3 linked regions of the Homo sapiens genome follow. The protein of the gene in region 3 purifies or fractionates together with the protein of the main gene of each other region. This does not show direct contact. Each region holds a gene or a part of one and is shown on either strand. Other genes may lie near its edges. The genes, in order: COLGALT1, RNASE4 and COL6A2.

Region 1 (3,648 bases), on a different chromosome or scaffold from region 3:
TGGTGGGCACCTGTAATCCCAGCTACTCGGGAGGCTGAGGCAGGAGAATTGCTTGGACCTGGTAGGCGGAGATTGCAGTGAACCAAGATTGTGCCACTGCACTCTAGCCTGGGTGACAGAGCAAGACTCTGTCTCAAAAGAAAAAAAAAATTAAGTGACACATATTTGTTAGTGAATGTGGTTTGCAAGATCTTAGATGCTCAGTAATAAAACAGCCAATCACTAATGGGTCTTTCCAAAATCAGCTTGTTTAATCCTTCCACTTCCCAGTAAACTGGGTCCTGTTCCCACCCCCATGTTACAGATGAGGAAACTGACATGGAAAGGGAGAAATGGGCCGGGCGCGGTGGCTCACGCTTGTTAAGTCCAGCACTTTGGGAGGCCAAGGTGGGCGGATCACGAGGTCAGGAGATCGAGACCAGCCTGGCCAACATGGTGAAACCCCGTCTCTACTAAAAATACAAAAAAATTAGCCGGGTGTGGTGGCGGGCGCCTGTAGTCCCAGCTACTTGGGAGGCTGAGACAGGAGAAGGCGTGAACCCGGGAGGCGGAGCTTGCAGTGAGCCGAGATCGCGCCACTGCACTCCAGCCTGGGCAACAGAGCGAGACTCTGTCTCAAAAAAAAACAAAGGAAAGGGAGAAGTGTCCTGTCCAGGGATACATAGCTGGTGGGAGGCCAGTTGGGGATGGTGGTCCTTGACTTGCCTCACTGCTGCCTGGTCCTGCCTCAGTCTCCCCAAGTACGCTGCCTGTCCCCTCTCCCTGCAGGGTGGCTACGGACCACAACATGGATAACACGTCAACTGTGCTGCGGGAGTGGCTGGTGGCCGTGAAGAGTTTGTACCATTCCGTGGAGTGGCGGCCAGCAGAGGAGCCCAGGTGAGCATCTTTCCCCTGCTCCTAGTCTGATTGGGCTTTGCCTCTGCTCACACACCCTCTATGGCTCCCCATTGCCCCAGAACAATTACAGGCCCTCAGTCCCTGCCTCCAGCCCAGCCAGGCAGCATTAAGCTACTCTGAGCCTCCCTCAGCTTTACAAATAGGCCATAATCCTCTTCTCAGACCTTTGCCCAAGCCGTTCCCTGTACCTAGAATTCTTTCACTCCCTTTTTCTTCTGGGGACGCCCACTGCTTTGTTCCCTGGCTCACTGACTCAGTCTTGGTCCCAGCACTGGCTTTGCTGTTTATCTACTCCCTAAAGCCCTGGGCAGCATGGACTCCCTGCCCCCACCCAGTTCCTTTCTGGGTTTTTGTTTTTTTTTTGAGACAGGGTCTCACTCCCTCACCCAGGCTGGAGTGCAGTGGAGTGAACACAGCTTACTGCAGCCTTTAACTCCTGGGCTCAAGCCATCCTCCCGCCTCAGCCTCCTGAGTAGCTGGGACTACAGGCACATGTAACCATGCCTAGCTAATGTTTTTGTATTTTTTGTAGAGATAGGGTCTCACTGTGTTGCCCAGGCTGGTCTCAAAGTGCTGGCCTCAAGCGATCCTCCCACCTCTGCCTCCCAAAGTGCTGGGATCGCAGGCGTGGGCCACTGCACTGGACCCCACTGAGCTTCCTTCCTTCCTTCCCTCCAGTGTGCCTCGGGCTTTCTTCCCTCCAGGCCTTTGCACAGGCTGTACCTCCGGCCAGGAACATTCTCCCCACTTCTCTTTCCTCGTCGTTTACTTTTTCCCATCCCTCAGATCAGCTTACACGTCCCCTCCTCCAGGAAGCTCTCTCTGAGTACCCCGAAGGCAGCTCAGGCCCTCGCTGGGCTTTGATAGTGCCTTGTGATGTCCACATCACAGCTGCCTCCCCATAGGTCCTACCCGGACGAGGAAGGCCCGAAACACTGGTCTGACTCACGCTACGAGCATGTCATGAAGTTGCGCCAGGCAGCCCTGAAATCAGCTCGAGACATGTGGGCTGATTACATCCTGGTAAGTTTCTCAGCCGGCCGGATATGGATCACAGGCAGGTCTGGGTATCCCCAGGGAAGGCGGAGCAGCAGGATGCCAGGACCATCCTTAATGTTGTTTTGCAGAAGGGTAAACTGAGGCTTAGAGAGGGGAGATGAGTTGCTTGAGGTGATATGGTTGGTCAGTGGAGGAGGAGCTGGGATTCATTTGATCCTCAGCACTAGGAATGAATGGGCTTTTCTGTCCCCAGTTGTCCCCTGTGTTTGGACACTTGGGTCAAGTCCATTTTTATTTTTTTATTTTTTTGAGACAGAGACTCACTCTGGTGCCCAGGCTGGAGTGAAGTGCCGCAATATCGGCTCACTGCAACCTCTGCCTCCTGGGTTCAAGCGATTCCCGTGCCACAGCCTCCTGAGTAGCTGGGACCACAGGCACCCACCACCACGCCCGGCTAATTTTTTATTTTTATTTTTGTGGAAGCCAGGCATGGTGGCTCATGCCTATAATCCCAGCACTTTAGGAGGCCAAGGCGGGTGGATCACTTGAGGTCAGGAGGTCGAGACCAGCCTGGTCAATATGGTGAGACTCCATCTCTACTAAAAATACAAAAATTAGCCGGGCGTGGTGGCAGGTGCCTGTAATCCCGGCTACCTGGGAGGCTGAGGCAGGAGGATTTCTTGAACCTAGGAGGCAGAGGTTGCAGTGAGCCGAGATCGTGCCACTGCACTCCAGTCACTGGGCGACACAGTGAGACTCCATCTCATAAATAAATACATAAATAAATATTTTTAAAAAATAACAAATAAAAAATATTTTTGTAGAGACGGGGTCTTGCTATGTTGCCCAGGCTGGTCTCCAACCCCTGGGCTCAAGTGATCTTCCTGCCTCGGCCTCCCAAAGTGCTGGGATTACAGGCATGGGCCACCGTGCCTGGCCGTGTCACGTCTGTTTTTATCACCATCATATGTAATGGCCAAACCTTTGGGTCACTTCCAAGAAGCAGGAGGAAGGGGTCAGGGGCTGGGGGGTGGTGGCCACATTGAATTGCTGAGGCCTGACTTGCACTTCCTCCTCCTGTGGGGACATTGTCTCATGGGGAAGGGAACAGTTGAGTCTTTTTATTTTTTTCTCGAGCCAAGATCACGCCACTGCACTCCAACCTGGGCCACAGTATGAGACTCTGTCTCAAAAAAAAAAAAAAAAAAAAAAAAACAGACTTATAGGTTGAATATTACTATTATTTTTTAATTTGTATAAACTTATGGAGCACAAGTGTAATTCTGTTACATGCATAGATTGTGAAGTGGTGAAGTCAGAGATTTTGGGGCGTCCATCCCCTAAATAATATACATTGAACCCATTACACAGTTTTCTATGATCAACCCCAAATGTTATTTCAGCCTTCATACTTTTCTATATTCTCCTGATTTTCTTTTTTCTTGTTTTTTGAGACAGAGTCTCTGTTGCCCAGGTTGGAGTGCAGTGGCACAATCTCGGCTCACTGCAGCCTCCTCCTCCTGGGTTCAAGCAATTCTTCTGCCTCAGCCTCCTGGGTAGCTGGGATTACAGGCCCCCGCCATCATGCCTGGCTAATTTTTGTAATTTTAGTAGAGACGGGGTTTCGCCATGTTGGCCAGGCTGGTCTCTAAAGTCCTGACCTCAGGTGATCCAGCTGCCTCGGCCTCCCAAAGTGCTGGGATTATAGGTGTGAGCCACCACATCCAGCCCATCTCTTAAAACAAACAA
Region 2 (3,648 bases), on a different chromosome or scaffold from region 3:
TAGGAATGTTACTAATGTCTTCTCTAGGAAATACCGTACTTGCAGGAGGTGCCAATGCTGTATAACTTGTGGGGATATTGCTGTTCACAGAAGGGAGTATGAGCTGGTGAACCTGTTTAGAATCTCTGTCCAAACTCGCTCTGCATTAGATATTAAGACCAAGGACACCTCATTAGATATAAGTGCCAAAGTAAAAGCCACAAAGTTCAGAATCTACCCATAAGGATATCACAAAATAAAGACCGACCTGTTGTCAGGTTTCACGGGTGCCATTTCCAAACATGCCATTACCCACGTGATCGTGGATGAACAATGAAGTATTTACTTGTTAGTGTTTCTTACTGGTGTATATTCCACAGAACTCATATTATTCACCTTGAATCAACATGCTTGCCTTATTATAACCCTTAATATTTTTTAAGTAATTGACTTCATTTTTCTCTCCAGGCCTAGGTTTGTTCATCAAGAAAATAAAAGAGTTGCTAGCTCTAAAAATCTGAAGTTTCATGGTTCTCATTAAACATAATAGAGGCTTTGCTAGTTTCAATAGCAAAGGTCCAGTGACCCTCAGTTACAGAGACAAATTTTGTATAAGTTTAGTTGGGGGCCTGTAATCTTGATTCCCTAAGACATCCAGGAACCAAATCTCAGCAAGCGTACACCAAAACCACCAATATCTAACATCTGCTCCCTCACTCAAAACTTTCTCAATATATTCAACTCTAAATTCCTCAAAAAGCAAGGTAAAATGGAATTGGGAGAAAACCAGTAAGAGACAGATCGTTTGTGGTGTAAAAGTGAATCTGCCTAAGCCAAGGGTGCAAAGCCTCACATCTGGTGGCAAAAGTCCTATAGATATATCCTTCTGTACCCAAACACGTAACTGTCTGTCAGCTTTTTGTCAGTGGAATTAGTCCCAGCTGTTCTCTGTCCTTTTTTTCTTTTCTTTTCTTTTTTTTTTTTTTTTTTTTTTTTTTTGAGACGGAGTCTCGCTCTGTCGCCCAGGCCGGACTGCGGACTGCAGTGGCGCAATCTCGGCTCACTGCAAGCTCCGCCTCCCGGGTTCACGCCATTCTCCTGCCTCAGCCTCCCGAGTAGCTGGGACTACAGGCGCCCGCCACCGCGCCCGGCTAATTTTTTGTATTTTTAGTAGAGACGGGGTTTCACCTTGTTAGCCAGGATGGTCTCGATCTCCTGACCTCATGATCCACCCGCCTCGGCCTCCCAAAGTGCTGGGATTACAGGCGTGAGCCACCGCGCCCGGCCTGTTTTTTTTTTTTTTTTGAGACAGAGTCTTGTTCTATCGCCCAGGCTAGATCGCAGTGGTGCTATCTTGGCTCACTGCAACCTCCACCTCCCAGGTTCAGGCAATTCTCCTGCCTCAGCCTCCCAAGTAGCTGGGATTACAGGCGGCCACCACCACGCTTGGCTAATTTTGTGTATTTGGTAGAGACGGGGTTTCGCCATGTCGGCCAGGCTGGTCTCGAACTCCTGACCTCAGTTGATCCGGCTACCTCGGCTTCCCAAAGTGCGGGGATTACAGGTGTGAGCCACCACACCTGGCCCCAACTGTTCTTTAGAGTAACTTTATCTTCTGTATCAAATGAATCTGTTAGTATTCACAAGAATTATTCTCTCCCTCTCCCCACAGGCAATGTTCAGTATTCAAAAGATTCATCAAATTTTACACACCAGGGAGTTAACTTGACAGTTTATGATGAGTAACTATAGTTATCATTTTCATCAATGTGGCTTCACACTTTTATACATCCTAGGGCAAAATCCCCCAAAGTAAGAGCCTAACACCCAAGGCATATTCATCCCTTTATTGCTTTTCCTTCCTTCTTCCCTTCAACCTGCCAGTGAGCCTTCTTTTGATCTTGGGATGTGTTCCACTTTGTTTGAAAGAGCATCCAAAACTTTTCTAAGAAGAGAAATTAGCAGGGAAGGTTAGAAGGAAACAATGCTAAAAACATACTGTTTCTTTCCTTGTTAAGCCACGTGTAATGCCTGTAACAGGGGTGGACGACGGGGGAGGACTCCCGATGGCCTTCAGCAAATGGCTCCCCCAGGCCTTTGGGGATTTTATCACAATTTAGAAATCCCTCCTAAACTTCCACTTCCTCCCAGTCTCACTAATTTCTCTTTATCCACACATAGGCCATCCCAAAAGAAACCTGTTTTCATTTTAAACTTTAGAATCTGATCCATTTTCTTTTTAATTCATGAGCTTGAGCCTGGAGGCTTTAAAGGGAGGAAAATGGTTTCATTAAAATGGATGGATGGCTAGAAATAATATATAAAACAAATTGAACAATAGTTTACCCAGGAGGAAGAATCTTACAAAAATCTGGCAGTTTCCCTTCAACGGGAGATGGGTTCCAGCTGTTTGTTCCTGGAGATGGGTTCCAGTTGTGTGAACCTGGAGGCCTCTCCAGGTTCTGATTATATAGTGTTCCTAATATATAGTGTCCCAGTCCTGGCAGGGACATGAAAACCAAGGACACTGCTCTTGAACAAACGAGGAGGGTCATTCACCTTTTCGCTGGGCATGATTGGGTTAGATATTAACCCACCTGAATGGATTAGAGATTTGTTCTGGAAGACAAAGTTTGAGAAACATGGCCTTCTGTCCAAAAGTTGCCCTTTTCTGCTGTCTGTGGTGCTTACTCTTGTTCATGGCAGGACTGAGGTTTCCCTATTCACACATAATAGTCTGGATCCATAAGATAGCATCTCTGATCTCCCTGGGCCAACTCCAAGAACTGCCTTGGAAGATGTCACAGAGTAAGATATGGTCTTCCAGTAGGATGCTTTTCCACTGTACTATTTATCATTTATCATATCACATCCTATTTATCGTATCACATCATTTGGTTTCATGAACGGATGCTAAGCACGTTATTCCATCGATTTCATACAGCCAGGAAAGCACTTCCAGAGAAGGTTGTGTGACAGCTATTAGTACACTGCCCCTCCCCCTACACTCAACTTCTCAGCTTCTAACCCCCAGAAGCAGGCTTGCCATGTTTCCTGGGTTTCTCCTTCTTCCATCTTTACCTGTCCACAAGAGACTAACCCTGAACATTCAATCTTCTGATCCTTGTAATGTAGTTGCAAAATTGCTTATCTCCATCATCAAAGCAGGGCTGTAGATCCATTGCTTGCGTAAAAACAGTGGGCCAAAGGTCACCAGGATCACCTTATAGATCTCATAGTTTCCAATATCAGACAGCAGCAGGGTACCAACTGTTTCACAGACCCCCAGCATTTGCCCACAGTGGTGTTGGATCTAGGACAGTGTTATCTTTTTAAAAATCCTCAATCCTCTGTTGTCACCCACCTAGCTGCCAAGTATTCAGTCTGGCTGCACTTGAGAAGGTGTCAAGAAAAGACAGGCTGCCTGCTAGTAAAACAAATGCACTTGAAATCACAATAATTATAATATTCAGTGCAATCTTTCATTTTGTGAAGCTCTCACATACATGACTACATTCAACCAACACCAGGACTGTGTGAGGTAGGCATTATGTAAATATGCTCTGCTCATGAGGAAACTCCAAGAACAAACAGCAGATGAATGGTGGAGTCAGACTTTGAACCCTTCATAAGCAAGGAGAAAACTGACCTGTCTTTCCAGGCTTAGCT
Region 3 (3,748 bases):
TGCCACCGTGCGGGTCTCCTAGCTCCCTGCCAGCTTCCTGTCCCTGTGCTCACTGCCCCCACGCCTCCTGCCAAGGCCGAGCCACACACCCGCTCCACCTGCATTTCCTCTACCGACTCGCCAGCCCAAATGCCGCTCTTCACTCTGGCCTCGCTGAGCGGCTGCCCGAGGAGGAGCTCTAGGCCGACGCCCACCGCAGGCCTTACAGTCTTCTCTGGACGCTCCCTTGCAGATGCACCGTGGCCTGGCGGCGAGCCCCCGGTCACCTTCCTCCGCACGGAAGAGGGGCCGGACGCCACCTTCCCCAGGACCATTCCCCTGATCCAACAGTTGCTAAACGCCACGGAGCTCACGCAGGACCCGGCCGCCTACTCCCAGCTGGTGGCCGTGCTGGTCTACACCGCCGAGCGGGCCAAGTTCGCCACCGGGGTAGAGCGGCAGGACTGGATGGAGCTGTTCATTGACACCTTTAAGCTGGTGCACAGGGACATCGTGGGGGACCCCGAGACCGCGCTGGCCCTCTGCTAAAGCCCGGGCACCCGCCCAGCCGGGCTGGGCCCTCCCTGCCACACTAGCTTCCCAGGGCTGCCCCCGACAGGCTGGCTCTCAGTGGAGGCCAGAGATCTGGAATCGGGGTCAGCGGGGCTACAGTCCTTCCAGGGGCTCTGGGGCAGCTCCCAGCCTCTTCCCATGCTGGTGGCCACCGTGTCCCTTGCTGCGGCTGCATCTTCCAGTCTCTCCTCCGTCTTCCTGTGGCCGCTCTCTTTATAAGAACCCTGGTCATTGAATTTAAGGCCCACCCCAAGTCCAGAATGACCTCGCAAGACCCTTAACTCACTCCCGTCTGCAGAGTCCTTCTTTGCTGCATCAGGTCACCCTCACAGGCTCCAGGGTTTGGGTGTGGAAGTCTTTGGAGGCCCTTACTTAGCGGCCCAGCTGGGCTGCCGTGCGTCTGGGATGGGGCTGAGGGAGGGTGCTGCCCAGGTGCTGGAGGATGTTCCAGCACCAGGTTCCAGCGGAGCCTCGGAAACAGGCCCCAGAGGCTGGTGAGCCTCGCTGGGTGTGGGCACTAATCCCGTGCATGGTGACTCGTGGGCGCTCACGGCCCACCTGGTGGCAGGTGAAGGCTTCCGGTTGGGCAGCAGATAGTCCTGGGGGAAGCTGGCAGTCCTGGCACCATGACGTATCTGGGCTGGTGTCATGCACAGTAGGGCGAATGGCCACAGCTGCCTGCCAGCAGCCCTGATCCCGGGGTGTCTGCACCCTTCCAGCCCAACCTCTGGGTCTCCAAAAGCACAGTCGGGGGAGCATCCACCAGGCACAACCTCTGCGGTCCTCAGAGGACTGAGCAGAGAATCCCAGGGTCCACAATGTTGGGGAGCGGCAGGGATCACCATCCAAAGGGAGCGGCCCCCACGGCGAGCTGACCCCGACGTTCTGACTGCAGGAGCCCTCATCCAGGCTGGGCTCCTGCCGGGCACGGCTGTGACCATTTCTCAGGGCCAGGTTCTCGTCCCCACACCCACTGCACAGGGCAGGCCAGGCTGGTCTTCCCACTGTGGGGATGAAGGATCCTCCACAGGAGGAGGAGAGCAGAGTCCACAGACATCCCAACAGCCTCAGCCTCCCTGTGCCTGGCCGGCCCCCACAGCTTCCCCGTCTCCTCCAGGCCCCACAGACACTGATGAATGGACAGAGACCCCCAAAACCAGCTGCCCCTTGCATGTCTGTCTCCATATGTTTGGTGACAGCAGTGAAAATGTTATTAGTTTTGAGGGGGTTTGGGAAGCCCAGCGGTACCTGAGGAGTTTCTGGACATTTAAGCCGGTTCCTAGGTGTGGCCTTAACAGGGAGGCTGCCCTTCCTTTCACTGAATGAGCTGCGTCACTCATAAGCTCACTGAGGGAACCCCATCTGCCAGCTCGTGCGTGCTCAGACGGCGTCCATGTCTCAAGCGTTCTGTGAAGGCTGCGGTGCAGCGTGAGGTCACCCTGCTGTGTTCAGAGCTTTGCTCACTGCCTGCGGGGCTGGACCGTTGCACCTCCAGGGCCCCCAGAAACCGAGTTTCGGGTCAGGGTCCTCTGTGTGCATTCCTGGGGGTCCATGTACCAGCTGTGACGACGTCCAGGGGTTGGGCTGAGAAGCAGACACCCTTGGGGAAACTGGCTCTGTCCCTCCCCTCCCCCATCCCAGGAGCTGAGGTCTTGGTGAGGCCACAGGGCCAGGTCCACGCAAGGACTGTCCGTGTCCTGTCCTGTGGTCTCTGGCCCCACGTGACACCCACACGTGTGGTAGGCAGCCTGGCCTGGGTTGTGGCTATGGCCAGGCCCCCAAGCTGTCCCCGATGCCCAGGGCTGGTGACCACCCAGGCAGGTGGGGGCCCCACTTGGTAACAGAGTCATAGGGCAGAACCCACCTGGGCTGCCACAGAAGGTCTGGCTGCCCCTGTGCCCACTGCTCCCCACCATGGCCAATCAGAAGAGTCAGGGGCTCCTGGTCTTTCCGGGAGGGACGTGGCCCAGCCAGCTCTAGGTGTTCTGAGCAGCTCTGGGACCCAGCGATTGAGGGGTCAGGCTGGGGGTGTCAGAGCCAGGGTCCTCCTTAAGTACCTCCCACACTACACAGACAGTGGCCCTTTTGTGGGCAGCAAATTCTTGAGCCATGAAAGGATGCTTTGGGCCCCTTCCCTCCCAGGAGGGCAGCCTGTGCAGGGATGGTGCTCAGCAGGTGGACAGGGCCTGGGGCCTGTGTCAGGGTCTCAGGCCTGGGAGCACCAGCAGAGGAGATGGCGGCTCCCAGCAGTGCCGCCTGAAAGTGTCTTGGGCTAAGGACCCACACCCAGGGCTGCCCTGCAGAAACGCCCCCGCAGAGCCCAGTGGTCTGTGAGGTTGCAGGCAGGGTGCGAATGGAAGGGCACAGGTGCGGGGCTGGCACCTGCCCGGTCCTGCCCACCTCCCCTCCGCCCAGCCCGCACCTGCGTCTCCCCACAGAGCTGTCCGTGGCACAGTGCACGCAGCGGCCCGTGGACATCGTCTTCCTGCTGGACGGCTCCGAGCGGCTGGGTGAGCAGAACTTCCACAAGGCCCGGCGCTTCGTGGAGCAGGTGGCGCGGCGGCTGACGCTGGCCCGGAGGGACGACGACCCTCTCAACGCACGCGTGGCGCTGCTGCAGTTTGGTGGCCCCGGCGAGCAGCAGGTGGCCTTCCCGCTGAGCCACAACCTCACGGCCATCCACGAGGCGCTGGAGACCACACAATACCTGAACTCCTTCTCGCACGTGGGCGCAGGCGTGGTGCACGCCATCAATGCCATCGTGCGCAGCCCGCGTGGCGGGGCCCGGAGGCACGCAGAGCTGTCCTTCGTGTTCCTCACGGACGGCGTCACGGGCAACGACAGTCTGCACGAGTCGGCGCACTCCATGCGCAAGCAGAACGTGGTACCCACCGTGCTGGCCTTGGGCAGCGACGTGGACATGGACGTGCTCACCACGCTCAGCCTGGGTGACCGCGCCGCCGTGTTCCACGAGAAGGACTATGACAGCCTGGCGCAACCCGGCTTCTTCGACCGCTTCATCCGCTGGATCTGCTAGCGCCGCCGCCCGGGCCCCGCAGTCGAGGGTCGTGAGCCCACCCCGTCCATGGTGCTAAGCGGGCCCGGGTCCCACACGGCCAGCACCGCTGCTCACTCGGACGACGCCCTGGGCCTGCACCTCTCCAGCTCCTCCCACGGGGTCCCCGTAGCCCCGGCC

The links.
Region 1: the proteins of COL6A2 (region 3) and COLGALT1 purify together in Homo sapiens (affinity purification with mass spectrometry; one large-scale study listed by BioGRID and IntAct). This does not show direct contact.
Region 2: the proteins of COL6A2 (region 3) and RNASE4 purify together in Homo sapiens (co-immunoprecipitation; one large-scale study listed by IntAct). This does not show direct contact.

Annotation. Positions count from the first base shown.
Region 1 is NC_000019.10:17,558,543-17,562,190, forward strand, and holds part of COLGALT1 (procollagen galactosyltransferase 1 precursor), read left to right. Parts: intron 1-768; coding exon 769-879; intron 880-1,805; coding exon 1,806-1,923; intron 1,924-3,648. UniProt on the Homo sapiens protein: Beta-galactosyltransferase that transfers beta-galactose to hydroxylysine residues of type I collagen. By acting on collagen glycosylation, facilitates the formation of collagen triple helix. Also involved in the biosynthesis of collagen type IV.
Region 2 is NC_000014.9:20,687,552-20,691,199, reverse strand, and holds part of RNASE4 (ribonuclease 4 precursor), read right to left. Parts: intron 2,437-3,648; exon of another isoform or gene 2,326-2,436; intron 1-2,325.
Region 3 is NC_000021.9:46,128,964-46,132,711, forward strand, and holds part of COL6A2 (collagen alpha-2(VI) chain isoform 2C2 precursor), read left to right. Parts: exon of another isoform or gene 1-232; coding exon of another isoform or gene 233-528; exon of another isoform or gene 529-838; intron 839-2,990; coding exon 2,991-3,589; 3' UTR 3,590-3,748. UniProt on the Homo sapiens protein: Collagen VI acts as a cell-binding protein.